2 separate regions of the Homo sapiens genome follow, and region 2 is linked to region 1. The links come from fine-mapping of genetic effects on gene expression. A gene starts in region 1. The other region holds a variant in brackets. All regions are shown on one strand. Distances are between the middles of the regions.

Region 1 (8,338 bases):
TTCTTCTTTAGTTATAAAGCAGTGAACAATTTTTAAAAAGACAAATACATTTTAACTTTAAGATATTCAAATGCAGTAAAAATATTTTTCGTATGAGTCCAAATTTTTACCTATCAAACAAGATGTTACAACTCATTGTTCACAATCTGTTTTGTTGCTTTAAATTTTAAACACATATGAGAAGCTTACAGGGGTCACCTAGGATGAGAGAATTGAAATAATTCAAGTTCTGGTTTTTTGTTTGTACAACCACTACGCTATCATTTTTTGTTTCAAATCTACTGTTTACATGCAGAAGCAGGTAATAAGTGCCACTGAGGTTGGAGACATAAGGACGTCAAAGGATCTGAACCATCGCACACTTACTCTTGCAACAAGAACACGCCCCTGAGTCTGTGCATGTTGGGGCCAAGTGCATAACCGGGAGTTCTCCAGATTAATGTCAATGTAGAACACAATATTTATGAAAGGATAAATAATAAAGATGTGATGAATTTGAAGCTTACATATACTTACTACATAAAATCCAACAGTAACCACGGAGATTGTTTAGAACTTAGGCCATAAAACCATTTTTTTCTGGAAAGAGCTTTGCCTTTATCGCTGATACTCTTTCTTTTGGGATGGAGTTTCACTTTGTTGCCCAGGATGGAGTGCGACGGCGCCATCTCGGCTCATTGCAACCTCTGCCTCCCGGGTTCAAGCAATTCTCCTGCCTCAGCGTACCAAGTAGCTGGGATTACAGGTGCCCATGACCAAGCCTGGCTAATGTTTTGTATTTTTAGTAGAGATGGCATTTTACCATGTTGGCCAGGCTGGTTTTGAACTCCTAACCTCAGGTGATCCACCCACCTCGGCCTCCCAAAGTGCTGGGATTACAGGCGTGAGCCACGGCGCCCGGCTGACATTCTTTATAATTGTGATAATGACAGGCAGATCAGCTTTTGGTTATATTTGTATTTAAATTCTCCACAGACGGTTGCTCTTTTATTGATGGCACATCCCCCCTCCACCCAGTCCCATGGCCCCCTATTCCCTCCCCACCCCACTCCCACCCCATTTGACTGTAAATTCCTGCAAGGTGGGGACGGCTGTGCAGCCCCCTGTTGTACAGTGCCCACTGCACAAGCGCAGTGGTTTGCAGGCCAAGGCCCCAGGGAGATCGCCTTAGGATGTCCTCCCTTTTCCTCTATGGGAGGCCAGATTTTCTTCCTACATTTCAAACAAAGCAATACATCACAACAGACTGAGTACAGAAACAGGTAAGATAATCCAGCTGTCTTGGGAAGCCAGATATTAGAGAGATTTGCAACATTTCTTTGTAAAACAATGTCACTCTTCTCCATTTAAAACTTATTTGGAAAATACAAGTTATTTTTCATAAAATTACATTATATGTGTTAATATGCAAGGGTTTATTATCATTTTAAAAAGTGTTAGCAGATTTTAAAGATTTCTCAGTTTTAATTTCTAATGAAGGAAATATTGATATCTCACATAATAAACACTGTTTGGGGTCCTCAGTGATTTTTAAGAGAGGAAACGTGTGAACAGAGTGTGTGAGTTGTACTCAGGCACTGCGTTACGTATGGCAGGTGCTCATGTATGCTTGTGACACTCATGAGGGACTGACTGAATAGGTAGCTTTCAGCTGCTCCTAGGATTTGCAAGCTGAGGCTGGGGTGGAGGGGAGGGAGAAGGTGCCTGTTGATAGTGGGCCCAGTACCGGGAAGGTGGGACTTGCCAGGGTCTAGGAGCAGCGTTGGCTCTCATGGCAACACCGACTGGGGAACCTGGGTCTCAGGCATTGGGGCTGGGCATAAGTGTGATGTGCCATGTGGGCTTCAAGCAGCTCACGCTATCCAGTCCCCCTTAGTGCTGAAGGGCAGGAACAACTGTCTAAATCTCCCTCTCTGTGAGAGGAACTGAGCAGAATGTTTTTCTAGAAACCTCTGGCTGTCAAATCACTGGGTGTGGGCTCGACACAGAGCACTGCGGCCTCAGTAGACAGATTGAGGCTGCAGGTACCTCTCCCTGCTCTGCCCTGACCAGCTATGCGACCGCCGGCAAGGCACTTAACTGCCAGCTTACTCAACCATATGGTGAGGATGAGATAAAATGTCCGTGGAGTGCCTGGCACATGCTGGGTGTGCAGCACATTAGTGACTCCATTAGTAAGATGTCATTAATAATAAATACTCAAAAGAAGTAGGCTGGGAGGAGGGGCTAAAGAGGAAGGGTCCTTGAGGGAGTACTTCCTGGTGCTCGATGAGTGACAGTTGAAGCTTGGCATAGATCATGGTTTCTCAGCCTCTGCACTAATAATGTTTTGGGCCAGACAATTCATTGTTGTGAGGGCTGTCCTGTGCATTGTAGGATGTGAAGCAGCTTCCCTGGCCTCTACCCACTAGATGCTGGAAGGGAAGCACTCTCTCCCTGGTCTTAACAACCAAAAACCAAAAATGTCTCCAGACATTGCCAAGTGTCCCCTGGAGGGCAAAATTGCCCCTGTTGAGAACCATTGGTGTAGAAACTTTCCTGACAAGGGCTCCACCACAGGACACCGGCTTCCCTGCGGTTTCCCCAGAAAGACATCATACCAGCCACATGCACACAGATTGGGCTCACTCATTGCAGAAAGAATTCTGCCAAGAGATTCTGCTTCCAAGAGAACAAGAGGCCTCCTGACTTGGATCCTCTTTTCTGAGGAACCCTCTTGCTAATAGTGGCCACTTCTCTCAGCATTTGCACAAACTAGGCCCCGGGGAAAGAAGCAGGCTGATCAGGACAATGAGATTGCTCAAGGAAAATCTGGACAATACCCAGAAGCCTGGGGGAGGCCATCCCTCCCTTCAACCTCTATCTCAGCACTGACAGCTTCCAATTCCCATGGCTCCATTGCAAAAACAGTCCTGGCCAATCCACAGTAGAATGGATAAAGGAAGTGTGGCATGGTCCCGCAGTGGAATGCTACAGCAGTGAGAATGAATGAGCCTCAACTCCACGAAACTGCATGGTTGACTTTCACAAACATAATGTCGAACGAAAGAAGCCAGACGCAAAAGAGCAACTGATGTGTTTCTATTAATGAAAAATCTCCCCAAAGGAAAAAATCATATATGTTAAGGCTCAAGGGGCACACAAGGAAGGCTTTGGGGTACTGGTTCAGTTTGTGAGAACTCATTGAGGATTTATGATAGAGGCCCTTTTCTAGAAGTGTGTTATAAACTTCATTAAAAAGTAAACAAACAAATACAACATTCCGGGGCAAAGGGCAGGAAAGGCCCTTTAGCAAAATCACTATGAACCAAGGGAATAAAGATTACCAGCAATTTTACCTGTATGGCTCTAAATTATTATGTAAGGGTCATTTTTGGATGTGGCTTTATAAATGAGATGATGTGTCAAAAATAATTAGTATAGTGCTTGGCACAGAAAATACTTAGTGAATGGCAATAATTAATACTGCTACTCAGTTATTAACTGGCCTATGAAGTAAAATAGTCAAATACAAAGGAACAGCCTTTTTCTTAAAGGGGAAAAAAGCTTCTGAAATTTTTAGGTACATCCCGTTAGGGAATTTCTAATTCTCAAAGTTGTCGGAGCTCTCTCCAAGGCTAGTCTTAGAGAAAAGAAAAATCTCAGACTCTACCTTAGCGTTACTAGCTCCTGACCAGTAACCAGTACCAAAACAAATTCCCAAACACCTGTCTAGTCTGGCCAAATTGTTCAATTAACTGATCCGTCATTTATTGGTCCACTGCTTAGCCTGGAAGCTGGGCTCCACTCTACTACCTTCCTGATAAGGCATTTGATCTGTCTTTCGCCATCAATCTAGTTTGTGAATTTACAAACAAAACAGGCAGGACGGCTGTTGGATTCTTCAGCCTCAGACTAAAATTTTGGCAGCAAAACAAAGTCTAGAAATTGTGCAATGATATCTCTACTTTAGACCTGACTGGAAATAGAACTCTCATAAATTCCCCTCTCTTCTGAGAGAGGCAGGCAATTAGACAACCCCAACCCGACAGAGCATTTCATTGCAAGCCTGGCTCCCCGGTTGCAAATTAGATGCCACATTAACTCTCAGGAAGATCTGAATCGCTTTCATATCATTTGCCGCTGAATAACTTTTAGCATGACTGTTTCCATATCAGATACGCAAGAGACTTCACTGCTAGCTGCAGGCACTCTTAGAAGACTTTTAATCCGAGGATGATTTTCTAAAATTTCATTTCTGTTTACAAACGGCTACGTGTCCCTGTGAACCTGTGAGGTCGTGTATAGAACCACCTGGCACGCTCTGAAGCAAGCTCTGTCCCATACAGTCAGAAACCCCTGGATTCTTTGTGACACACGTTTTAAAAAGAAAAGTTCATGCCCATCTCTGGAGAAAAGTCAGGCTCTTACCTGGTTTCAGGCTTTGTCCAAGGGCACTTGATTGGATAAAGATGCATAAAACCAACAGAATGGAGAAACACAGGGGACTTGTGTCCATTTCTCCGTTTCACCCGGGGTCCAGGCTTTCTTGGTAATTTCTGAAGCCAAAGAGACCACAATGCCTATTAGATACTTTGTTAGGGAAGACTGCCCATTAATAATTAACCTCTCAACATGTTATCCACTGTTCAGACCCTTTCTTTACTGCCCCCAACTGCAAATCTAATTATATCTATTTTAAAAAGGTCGATTTACAGAAGTGCTTCTTATCCTGACACATTTTGAGAATAAAATACCTTGTTATGTATTCTTACCTTTTGGGGCCAAGGTCAGAGTTCCAAATTAATCAACTTAAAGCTACTGTGTTGTGTTTGGAAATTCTGCCAAAGGTCGGGGTAGGTGGCTTCCACGTGGCTGCCTAAGCCTCCCTGTGACAGCGCTGCAAGGGGGATGCTGGCTCAGGAAAGTGGTGTTTCAAATTGCAGCCTAAGCCCAAAGAAAAAGAAAAGGGCCCTGCCACGCAGAGAGCCCCCAGAGGGTCCAAATTTCTGTTGGGTTCAGTGAAATTGGTGATGCTTGTGGTCAAAGTGTGGTGCAGAAAACCCTTCACCCCCGTGTCAAAAGGAGCTGACGAAGAAGCAAAGATGCCCTTGCCAAGTGACCCATTGAGAGGTGATCCTAGAGTAAACACACTTCTTCCCCCTCTGTGTTCATTAATGTTCCAGCTGTGTAGAGGACTGAAAAGTAAGGCCACTCAGCAAAATCAGGTAGGGAAAAGGCGACCATAGATGGCTTTTGTGATATTTTTGGACCTCTAGTTTTACTTTAACTTTCTTCATTTGTTCAACATTTATATATTTTGGTATGCCTACTAGGTGCCAAGCACTGTTGCAGGCACGTGGGGTATACAAGTCCTTATGTATCAGTGGAGGTTCTTACCTTCTGGAGTTGGATAACGGACAGTAGACATAATAAAGAAGAGATTTCTGGCCAGGAGCGGTGGCTCACTCCTGTAATCACAGCACTTTGGGAGGCGAGGAGGGCGGATCACGAGGTCAGGAGTTCGAGACCAGCCTGACCAACATGGTGAAACCCCATCTGTACTAAAAATACAAAAGTTAGCTGGGCGTGGAGGTGAGTGCCTGTAATCCCAGCTACTCAGGAAGCTGAGGCAGGAGAATCGCTTGAACCTGGGAGGCGGAGGTTGCAGTGAACTGAGATCGCGCCATTGTACTCCAGCCTGGGCGACACAGAGAGACTCCGTCTCAAAAAAAAAAAAAAAAAAATTAGGTAGACTGGTAGAATGTAATGGGAACCACTACAAGAAAAGCAGGGGGTTGGGGAGAAGGTAGGGATTTTAAGCAGAGTGGTTAGAGTGAATTGCATTGGGAAGTTAAACTTTCAGCAAAGGTTTGAAGGAAGTGAAGGAGTTGCCCCTGTGGACGTCTTGGGGAGGAGAGCTTCGGGCAGTCTGTGCAAAGGCCCTGAGGTAGGAGTATGCCTGGTGTGCTCCAGGAATAGCAAGGAGGCCAATGAATGGGGAGACATTGTAAGGACTTTGACTTTTATGCATTGACACATGGGGGGCGACTCTGAGCAGAAGGGTGATATGATTTGTATTATAGTTTTAAAATATCACTCTGGTTTGCAAGTGAGCCAGGGTGCAGTGGGGAGATCTGTTAGAAGGCTATTACAGTGGCCCAGTGAGAGGTGATGGTGGCGTGGCCCAGCATGGTAAAGGGCAACTGCGGAGTGGTGGATGGGTGGTGGATATATTTTGAAGGTAGAGCCCACAGGATTTTCTGACTGCTGAGTTGTGAGATGTGGGAGAAAGAGAGGAGTTAAGGATGACTTCCAGGTTTTTTGGCTTGAACAAGCAGATTAATGGGGTTGCTGTCAGCTGAGAAGGGGAAGCTGTGAGTGAAGCAGGTCTGTTGGGGGAAGATTAGAGATTCAGCCTTGGCCACGTGGGGCTTTGAGATGGCTCTTAGACATCCAAGTGGAAACGTTAAGCGGGCAAAATTAGATAACATGGTAATTATTGCCTGGACGAGCCTCATTCAAAGGGCCTTCTGAAGCCACCACCAGACTTGGACGATCTTGACCCAGTCTAAAGCTGTGTTCTGTCCTATGACTGTACCTTCCTCCCAAGCCCCGAAGCTTGCGGACCATCCCGTCAGATATACAATTTCTTTTTCTTTTTCTTTTTTTTTTTTGAGATGGAATCTTGCTCTGTCGCCCAGGCTGGAGTGCAGTGGCGCGATCTCGGTTCACTGCAACTTCCACCTCCCAGGTTCAAGCGATTCTAGTGCTTCAGCCTTCAGAGTAGGTGGGACTACAGGTGCCCACCACCATGCCTGGCTAATTTTTGTATTTTTAGTAGAGACGGGGTTTTACCATGTTGGTCAGGCTGGTCTCTAACTCCTGACCTTGTGATCCACCCACCTCGGCCTCCCAAAGTGCTGGGATTACAGGCGTGAGTCACCGTGCCCATCAGATATACAATTTCTGAGCAAGGACTTCTGCCTTGGATACTTGGCTGGCTCCTGCACAGTTAAGCAGAATCTGAAAGTTCCACTTTTTTTCCTATAAAGCTGGCACGTAAGACCAGCTGGCTACCCATCTCGGGCTCCTCTCCCCTGTGCCCACCCTCATCTCCTCTCCTCTGGGTACTGCCAGTAACCACCGCCACTCCCCATTTTATTCGGGACACAAACTCATCAAAAGACACCAGTGAATCCAAGTGCCTCTGAAATACCAACCGTGTGCCCCCACCCGCCCCCCAAATTTCTGCAGAGTACACTTTCTTACCACTTTCTACGTGGTAAGAACACTTTCAACATGGGAAGAAGCCTTCAAGATTGTTTCTAGCTCTTGTAGTTCCTTTACTTGCACCACCCCAAATTCCTCTAACATCATCTCATGCCAACTCAAATTCTATAAGGCTCTCCTGGAAAATGACAAGGAGGAGTGGGTACCTGTCCCCTTTCAGGGTGTTGTCTGCTTTCACCTCTACCTAAGCTCTTCCAGCCTGCCCCATCACCGGGTCTGACCTTCCAGTGGTGGTTTTAATGCACAAGCTCTGTTGTGTTTTCTTGAAGCTGACCAGGGAGGCTACTGGCAGGGAAGAGGGGAGGACTTCACAGAGTATGAGATTTCCTGAACTGGGGGGGTCCTAGGCCTATCTACTTGCTGTATATAATATTATATAACCTTAATGAGTTCAATCTCCTCACCTATAAAATGGGGACAACATGTATCTGAGATAATATTTTGAGATATCAACTTATTTTTCTCCCAAACTGTCTCCCTTCCACTTAAGAGGGGCAAAGTAGAGAGAAGGCTACAAATCTTTTGTCTTCCAAAAATATAGGACCTTAGGGCAAGTGAATTTTATTTTATTTTATATTATTTTATTTTATTTATTTTAGAGACAGGGTCTTCCTATGTTGCCCAGGCTGGCCATAAACTCCTGGGCTCAAGTGATCCTCCTGCCTTGGCCTCCCAAAGTGTGGGCAGGTGAATTCTAGCCAACAAAGAAAAGCAAAAGACTAACATTTCTTGAGGGGATGTGAAGGGAGAAGGAACCCCTCACCTTGCCATCACTAGAAAGACATTCTCTTGGGCTTTGCAGGTGGTGTGGAAGGGGGAGGTTTGTCTATGGGTCTGAGAGCAGAGGGGACAGTACCTTGCTTCCCAGAAATCCTGCTGGAAGAGAAGAACCCAGGGAGGAAATGGCTGTGTTGGCACATGGGCAAAAGATATACCTGGCTTGATGTAGGGTGGGAGAGCAGTGAGTCTCTGGGGCCAGCAGGTCATGTTGATGGGAGGATGGGCCCCTCAGTGGCCACCAATGTGGACTGATGACAGAGGACTAGGTCACACTCCCCTGACCCCA
Region 2 (8,338 bases), 21 kb after region 1:
ATTTTTTAGTAGAGACGGGGTTTCACCATGTTGGTCAGGCTGGTCTTGAACTCCTGACCTTGTGATCCACCAGCCTTGGCCTCCCAAAGTGCTGGGATTACAGGCATGAGCCACTGGGTCCAGCCCAAATAGTAATTCCTTTACAAAAGATATTCTGTGATTTGTTATAATCTTCTGGCATCAGTAGAATTTACCTTAATTAGTGGCTACATGCTATTGTTTTAATTTATAGCTGTATTTTATAAGCTCAGTTAAAAATGATTTTTCTGCCTATGCTCCTTGAGTAACCCATGGATAGATAAAATTTATTGATCAATAAAATTTAGCAAATAGACAGTATGCACAAGCCATTCCTGCCTTTTAGGTCTTTAGTAGATGTTGCTAATTGCCTGCATTATTTTCTTCATCTGTGTATTCATATATTCACTTATTCAGCAGCTGTTTTGGGAAAATCTGCTAATATCTTTGAGCCTGGTTCTAATCATTTCGAGCCAGTTTTATAGGAATTGGCACTTGTGCACATTTGCCATCCTAAGACCGTGTGTTTATGTGTGTGTGCGCCTGTGTGGTATTTCTCACAGGTTTGTGGATGGGGATAATACTCATCTCTTAGAATGAATTGGGTATCAGATCTTGTTTTTCTGTGATTTGGAACTGATTACATAATACAGAAAAATCTGTTTCTTGAGTATGTAGTAATATTGTTCAGTAAATTTGTTGAGGTCATAATATTTCTTGTGGTAGATGAGATTTTTTTAAATAACAGCTTTTCAGTTTCCTTTGCCTTCATCATTATTTTCATGTTATCTACATTTTCTCTTGCCAGTTAATATTTTGTGTTGTCCATTTGGCTAAGCATTTCAAGTTGATTATCATAAATTTTGCATTGCAATCATTTATATTTTAAAATCTTTTGTATCGGTTGTTAAATCACTAGCCTTGTTTTTAATTTTGTTGATTTATACCTTTTCTTTTATTTATTGTATTTCCAAGGGATTGATCTATCTTATAATCTTCTCACAGAATGAGCATCTAAATTTATGTATTATTTCCACTGATTTCCTCTTTTCTAGTTTATTTCTGTCCTTACTCTTTATTATTATCTATTTTCCTTTATATTGACTGTCTTCATAAGATTTTAAGTCAAATGTTTATTTCATATTTCTAAAATAAAAGCACATAGATTTACGCCTTAACTTCTGGGCTCTGATTTATACAAAGCCCCCTCCCTTTTGATATGGGGTGTTTTCAATTTTATAAACATCTCAAAAGTTGTTATCATGTTCTTAATTATCTACTTCACTGGTCCCTAACATTTTTGGCACCAGGGACCAGTTTTGTGGGAGACAGTTTTTCCATGAATGGGGGTGGATGCGTGATGGTTTCAGAATGATTTGAGCATATTGCATTTATTGTGTACTTTATTTCCATTATTATTACATTGTTAATATATAATGAAATAATGATATAACTATAATCTACTCACCGTAATGTAGAATAAGTGGGAGGCCTGAGATTGTTTGCCTGAAACTAGATGGTCCTGTTTGGGGGTGATGGGAGACAGTGACAGATCATCAGGCATTAGATTCTCATAAGGACCATGCAATCTAGATTCCTCACAGGCACAGTTCACAATAGGGTTTGTGGTCCTATGAGAATCTAATGCCACTGCTGATCTGACAGGAGGCGGAGTTTAGTGTGAATGTGACTGATGCGTAGCGACTGTAAATACAGATAAAGCTCTGCTGCTCACCTCCTGCTGTGTGGCCAGGTTCCTAACAGGCCACACACTGGTACTGGGGGTTGGAGACCCCTGTTCTACTTGAACTTGTAGTTTAGGAAAGTTTTTGTGGTTGTTAGACATTGATACCCATTAATTTGTTGCTGCTGTAATTTTTTATTAATATTTTAATATAATTTTAAACTTACAGAAATGTTAAAAGACTAGTATGAACTCCTATACACCCTTTACCTAGGTGCACTGTTGGTTTGTATTTTTCCCTAGTTATCATTCACTCTGTCTTTATGGATATGTGAATGTTTTTCTGAACAATTTGAGAGTAAGCTGCATACATACATATATATCTAAATACTTCAATATATATTTCTGGACACAAATATTTTCTTTTATAAAATTCAAGAAATTTAACAGTAAAATCAGGAAATTTCATGATACCATATGATTAATCCCACCATCCACATTCAAATTGTCAGTTATCCCAATATTGTGTTTTTTAATATATATAAAACATATATTAAAAACATATATATAAAACATATATAAATATAAAATATATGTGTGTTTTATATATGTGTGTGCGTATACGTGTATATATGTAGAAAGACAGAAATTGAGGGTATTTTAGAATTTACAATGACAGACAAGAAACTGAGATGGCTGTATGCCTACCGCAACCACCATCTGTAGGCCACCCAAGAGTAAATATTTATTTTCTTCTTGTACTCTGTTTTTCAGAAGTTCATGTTTATTTTCAAATTTACTATTTTTTATTATTCACATACTATATATTCATAGTAGAAAAGATAAAGCAATATAACAAAAATTGGCAGAAATATCAGTGCACAGAGATAACCACTGTTAGTATTTAGATGAATATTTTATAGACTTTTGCTTTCAATCGACAAAAACTCTAGATACTTTTTCTAGTTAAATATGAGTACATTAAAAATGGAGTTATATTGTACGGCTTACGGTTTTAACTCTCTTTTAAGTCTTAGTTTATTTGACATACTTATAGGTAATCTTCATAACAACTTTGCAAGGTAGAGCCTCATTTTTAGATGAGGAATCCAAGGTTCAGAGAGGTTCAGTAAACTGCCCAGGTCACACTGCAGTAAGGAATGTAGTTTATAATCTAAACCCCGAACTGTTTGCTGCAAAGGCTCTTGGTTAGATTATTCTTTTGCCCAAGGCTCCTTTCATTGCTTTTACTTATTCACATTTAGCTTTATTGCATGTGGTGAGAAAATATGTATATTTTTTCCTCTTGATTCAATTTTTAGGGCCTTATTTGAGAGTTAGTATATATGTACCAATGCCCCCATATGGAAAAAAATGTGTAATCTATGTTGGTATTGAGTTCAGTGTATGTCTATTGGTTCTAACTTATCAATTGTATAACATAACCTCTATTGTCTATTTTTGTCACGTCTTCAATGTCTTCTAAATTTTTGTCTATTTAAATTTGTCTTTATTTTTTACTCTTGTCTATTTTTTTCTTAGCCTTGAAATGAATTAAACTCTCCCTTTACAATTGCTTGTTTTTTATTCTATTTCTCTTTGCATTTCTGACTTTAGTAACCTCTGTCTTCACAGTTGATTTTCTATTTTTTATCATAATCAGGAGCTTCTTTGTATCCTCTCCCTGTGTTTTTGGCTTCAAAATCTCTTTTATATGCTATCAACTTTACCAACTATTTTCTTTTTGTCGTATGAGTTTCCTCATTAAACCTTTTTATTTTAGCATTTCTGCATTTTTTGGGTAACAGATTCCTATTTTTAAGCAACATACGTATTGTTGGGTCTTATGTTTTAATCCAATATGAGAATTTGTCTTTTTAGAAATCAATGGCCTAAGGCCGGGCGCGGTGGCTCACGCCTGTAATCCCAGCACTTTGGGAGGCCGAGGTGGGCGGATCACAATGTCAGGAGATCAAGACCATCCTGGCTAACACGATAAAACCCCGTCTCTACTAAAAATACAAAAAATTAGCCGGGCCTGGTGGCGGGTGCCTGTAGTCCCAGCTACTCGGGAGGCTGAGGCAGGAGAATGGCGTGAACCCGGGAGGTGGAGCTGTGGCAGTGAGCCGAGATGTTGCCACTGCACTCCAGCCTGGGTGACAGAGTGAGACTCCGTCTCAAAAAAAAAAAAAAAGAAATCAATGGCCTAAATATATAAAGTTCTTTGGGGAGAAGCTAGTGTATTGATATGAGATGGGCTCCCAGCTACTAGCTGTGGACTTTCTACAAGTTCCTTAAATACCCTGTGAGGAAGCTACTTACAGGCGTCTTTATCTGTAAAATAATGTTAATAAGCACACCAACGTGATAGAGTTGCTTCGAAGATTAAATGAGATCAAGAGCAATCAGAAATAGAAGCATATTAAAGCATATTAAACTGATTATTTGTAAAATGCAATTGTCAATATTTGCTATGATAGACATTATGTCTGGAAATACC[A/T]TCCAAAGCAAGTTTCTTGGCAGTTAGAAAGCAAGTTGGTTAAACGATGATCTATGCTCAAAATGGGGATAATCAGTTCTATACTTTTCTCCAACCATATTTTAAATTTTTCTTTGAGATAATGGGAATAACTTACAAGAAAAACTGCTGAGAAGCAGTGGTCCAAAGCCTTTTTAGAAGCTCTCAGGGTTCAGTTCAAGTTGTCCATCTCCATTTCTGGCTGCACCTGGAGCTTCACAGCTTGACTTAAATTCGGCCATGTCAGGAATCACTCACTGCCTTGCTTTCCATTTAGTTAATTAAGTGCTTAGGTTTACAAATAAGTTATTTGCTCTCATGACGGGTATGGAAGCTGCAGGCTTTGCTGTGCCTTGGCAATTCTCATCAGGCGTGGAAAAACTGAAACTAAGAAAAACCAACCAAGCGATGATAGATTTTCCACTTCCTGGATTGTGTGACTTGCTCATCCAATGAAAGGCAATGAGGGTGGGGTGGGGGGCAACCAGAGATGAGGACTGATTCTCAGCTTGTTGTTCTCCTCAGCAGTCCTCCAGCCCCTGTACAGCTGGAACCTCTGCATCAGTGAAAGCTGCTAGGAATTCAAAGTGCGTTCACATTCACTTCTGCTCCTCAGGATCAGAGGCAGTGAGGAAAGCTAAAAAAAAGTCTGAGGTTTAAATTGGAACCCATTTTTAACTTTTCAAATGTTCTTGGTATTTTAAGATCCAGAAAACCTTAAATCAGACAATTCTATATTACCAAACTGAAGAATAGTCTATAATATCATAATCTGATATGCTCCAGACTGACCTGATTTATTTTTACTTGTATGAACTTCAAATCTGATGGCTTTTATTTGATCCCTCAGAGGATGCTGTAGGTCCATTTCCCATCTGATGCAATAGAGGTGTCTTTTTTTTTTTTTTTTTTTTAAACTTCTCTGATAATAATCATCATCTGGTGTCTTGTTACACAAATGTTTCTAAGTTCCTCCCTAGAGATTCTGCTTCAGTGGGTCTGGGATGGGGCCTCAGATTTGTGGTCTCTTTTTCTGTTTGTTTGTTTGTTTTTTTGAGACAGAGTCTCACTCTGTCATCCAGGCTGGAGTGCAGTGGCGCGATCTTGGCTTACTGCAACCTCCACCTCCTAGGTTCAAGTGATTTTCCTGCCTCAGCCTCCTGCTTAGCTGGGACTACAGACACACACCACCACACCCGGCTAATTTTTGTATTTTTAGTAGAGACGGTGTTCTACCATGTTGGCCAGGCTGGCCTCAAACTCCTCATCTCAAGTGATCCACCCACCTCGGCCTCCCAAAGTGCTGAGATTACAGGCATGAGCCATCGTGCCCAGCCGGATTTGTGTTCTTAACATTAGCTTGGGCAACAGTGGAGTAGACTGAGGGGATAGATTCTACTTTTACAATTAGAAAGCCTTGGGCTCAAGTCCTGGGTCTTTCACTTGCTCGTTATGTGGTCTTGCACAAATTACTTAATCTTCCTCAATCTCATCTGAAAAACAACTGGAGATAAAAATATCTAAAAGTGTTGTCAAGAGGATTAAAATAACTAACACCCTTGATAGCATCCACTTTTCTCAGTATTGCTAAATCATTTCTACCCAGGTTAATTTGAAGATTATCTGTGAATTTATTTAGCATGCAGGCATAATGTTTTTTACTTATTTTCCTTGTTTATTTGGTGTATATTTGTGAAGCTTTTGCTGTGTGCCAGACACTGCGATTTTTAGAACACACTGAGCACTCCCTGATGGTATCACCTGCTCACATGGTCCATCTCAGGTTGTGTTTTCGTTTTTGTTTTTTGAGACAGAGTCTTGCTCTGTCTCCCAGGCTAGTGTGCAGTGGTGCGATCTTGGCTCACTGCAACCTCCACCTCCCAGGTTCAAGCAGTTCTCCTGCCTCAGGCTCCCAGGTAGCTGGGACTACAGGCATGCACCATGATGCCTGGCTAATTTCTGTATTTTTGGTAGAGATGGGGTTTCACCATGTTTGCCAGGCTGGTCTCGAACTCCTGATCTCAAGTGATATGCCCGCCTCAGCCTCCCAAAGTACTGAGATTACAGGCATGAGCCACTGTGCCCCATCCATCTCAGGTTTTTGAAAGTACTACCCAGCTTTCTTGTGTGAAAGAAAGCAGGCCCCTAGTTATTCATGGAGCTTCTTGGATTAGGAAGGCCATGTCCTTATTCCTCCTTTGTACCAGAAATTCAATTTTTCTTGAATCTAATCGTGTATTTTTTTCAAAAGAAAATATATATAAAATTATTCGATTTGATTTTACACAGAATATGTTCCAGGTACTTTGCATTAAGTGAATTGTCTCTTTTTGGACAGAAAAACCTTTGTACTTTTCCCCCTCCCCTCATAATAGCAAGAATCCAATGGATTTTTGATGATTATGCCTATGTTTTCCTTATATTTAGTTTTGCTTCAAAAGAATTTAAAGCACTTTTAAAAGATAAAAACAATGCAAGACATTAAGAGGAAAATTAAGTAGGAAAAAAGGATGGGAAAAATATAGTGAATTGATAAATGAAATTACACTTCAAATATATGTTGTACAGTCTTTTATACTTCCCAGTGATGGGCCAGATATTTGGCTCTGAACTCTCTAGCTCTCATTGCAAACCCTCTGCAGACAAAAGATGGAGGTGATGATTCTCAAGCCATGTAGATGATTATTGGGATCATCATCTATATGAGTCTTGAACTTTGTTTTAACTTTTCCACTGGCCCAAGACTTTGGGTCCTAATCAACATTAGGGTCATTAAGAGTTTACAGAAGGGTCATGAGTACCATGGAAAACTATGTGCTCGCCAATCTTCCAGCCAAACACAAAATAGATCAGGGAATAAGGAGGCCTCCTGCTGCAGAGGAGATGATAGCCAGGTGGGAGAGCTGGGCCAAGGATCAGCCAATTTTCTGGTACAGAAAGTGTAACCATGGCAACAGTAGTGAAGGTAGCTCTAGTTCCATCAGCAATGACACCCTTAAGAGGTACCGGCAGAGAGAGAAGCCTGTTGTACATCTGGGCAAGGGTCTCGGTGAGGGAAGTTCATGTAATTTTTAAGCATAATCGTTGGGAGAAAATAAACAGCCTCTTTCATGTTAACCTTGCAAACTCAAATAGACAAAGTGAAGGCCAATGACTGGCGGTACTGCCTGGCTGAGGCTGGATGTGACTGCCTTGCCTGGGAACCTGTAGCCTGCCTCAGGTTTGCCTTTTATTCTCTTTACTTTCTAGTAACAGTGCTCACAGGACTTTCAATAAGCAAAGCCCAGAGGGGGAGAGTTGCTTTTGAAGCCACACTCTTGTCTGCCTCATTCATTTCAAACAGAGACACTTCTGAAAGAGACGAAGGCCTGTGTACAAACAACAATGCCCACTGCATTCTGTTGCCTTCAGCTGTGATGTGGTGGCTTTTGATTCTACACAGAAGGTCCTTGTTTCAGACACTGATTGATGGGTCTTCTGAATGGAGGAGGCAGCAAGAACAAATGAGCAAGGCCCCTGGTAAGGCCAGGTGCTTCAAGAGGATGGGCTGGAAAGTGCTTAAAATAAAAGGTAAACACAAGCCTCCACAACAGCAAAAAATACCAAGGCACTGAGTTCTGAGTGGTTGATAATTGGTAGTTCCTAAGGATTTCCACATGTTTGTGCAAACACATATAAGCTCCTTGGAGAACTCTGACCTGGAATTTCAGACTTTTTGGTGGAGGAACCAAAAGTTAAACCCAAATAGATGTCATAAAACAGGTAAAAGTAATTGAAATAAAGAGCACTGGAGGTCTGAGTCTGGTTTGAGGCAGTGAAACAGAAAATAATGCAGTGAAAGAACAGGTGATGGGGCATCTCCGTCTCAGAGAGGGTTGTGATTTTTCACCAGAAACCCATGGAAAGCCACATAAAGGCTCATTCTAAACACAATGGACAGTGTTAGGACCTGCTGTGAGGAAGCTGTATGAGATGTGCCTCCCTTCTCCATCAACCCTTGTCCTTCCGTTTTGCCTAACAGAAACAAACCAGTGAAAAATCCACATGAGAAATCTGGCTATACTCAGTACTTTTGCAAGAAAACACTATGAAACTCCCTGTGAGTCTGCATTCTTCAT

What was found. PIP is the estimated chance that this variant, and not a neighbour inherited with it, causes the effect.
Region 2: its variant is fine-mapped to the expression of LIPC in whole blood (INTERVAL, PIP above 0.99).

What each region holds. Positions count from the first base shown.
Region 1 is chr15:58,428,193-58,436,530 of GRCh38, reverse strand. It overlaps LIPC (lipase C, hepatic type), which reads right to left and starts at 4,540. Exons shown (of 9, transcript NM_000236.3): 1 at 4,411-4,540. The coding sequence starts at 4,498. It overlaps LIPC-AS1 (LIPC antisense RNA 1), which reads left to right. Exons shown (of 3, transcript NR_120338.1): 3 at 1-1,630. RefSeq lists a silencer at 6,227-6,521 and an enhancer at 6,227-6,521.
Region 2 is chr15:58,406,819-58,415,156 of GRCh38, reverse strand. No RefSeq gene overlaps it. Among named protein-coding and RNA genes, the nearest start is that of LIPC, 21 kb to the left of the region's middle. RefSeq lists a silencer at 4,393-4,687. The variant A/T (reference allele first, on the strand shown) is at 4,203.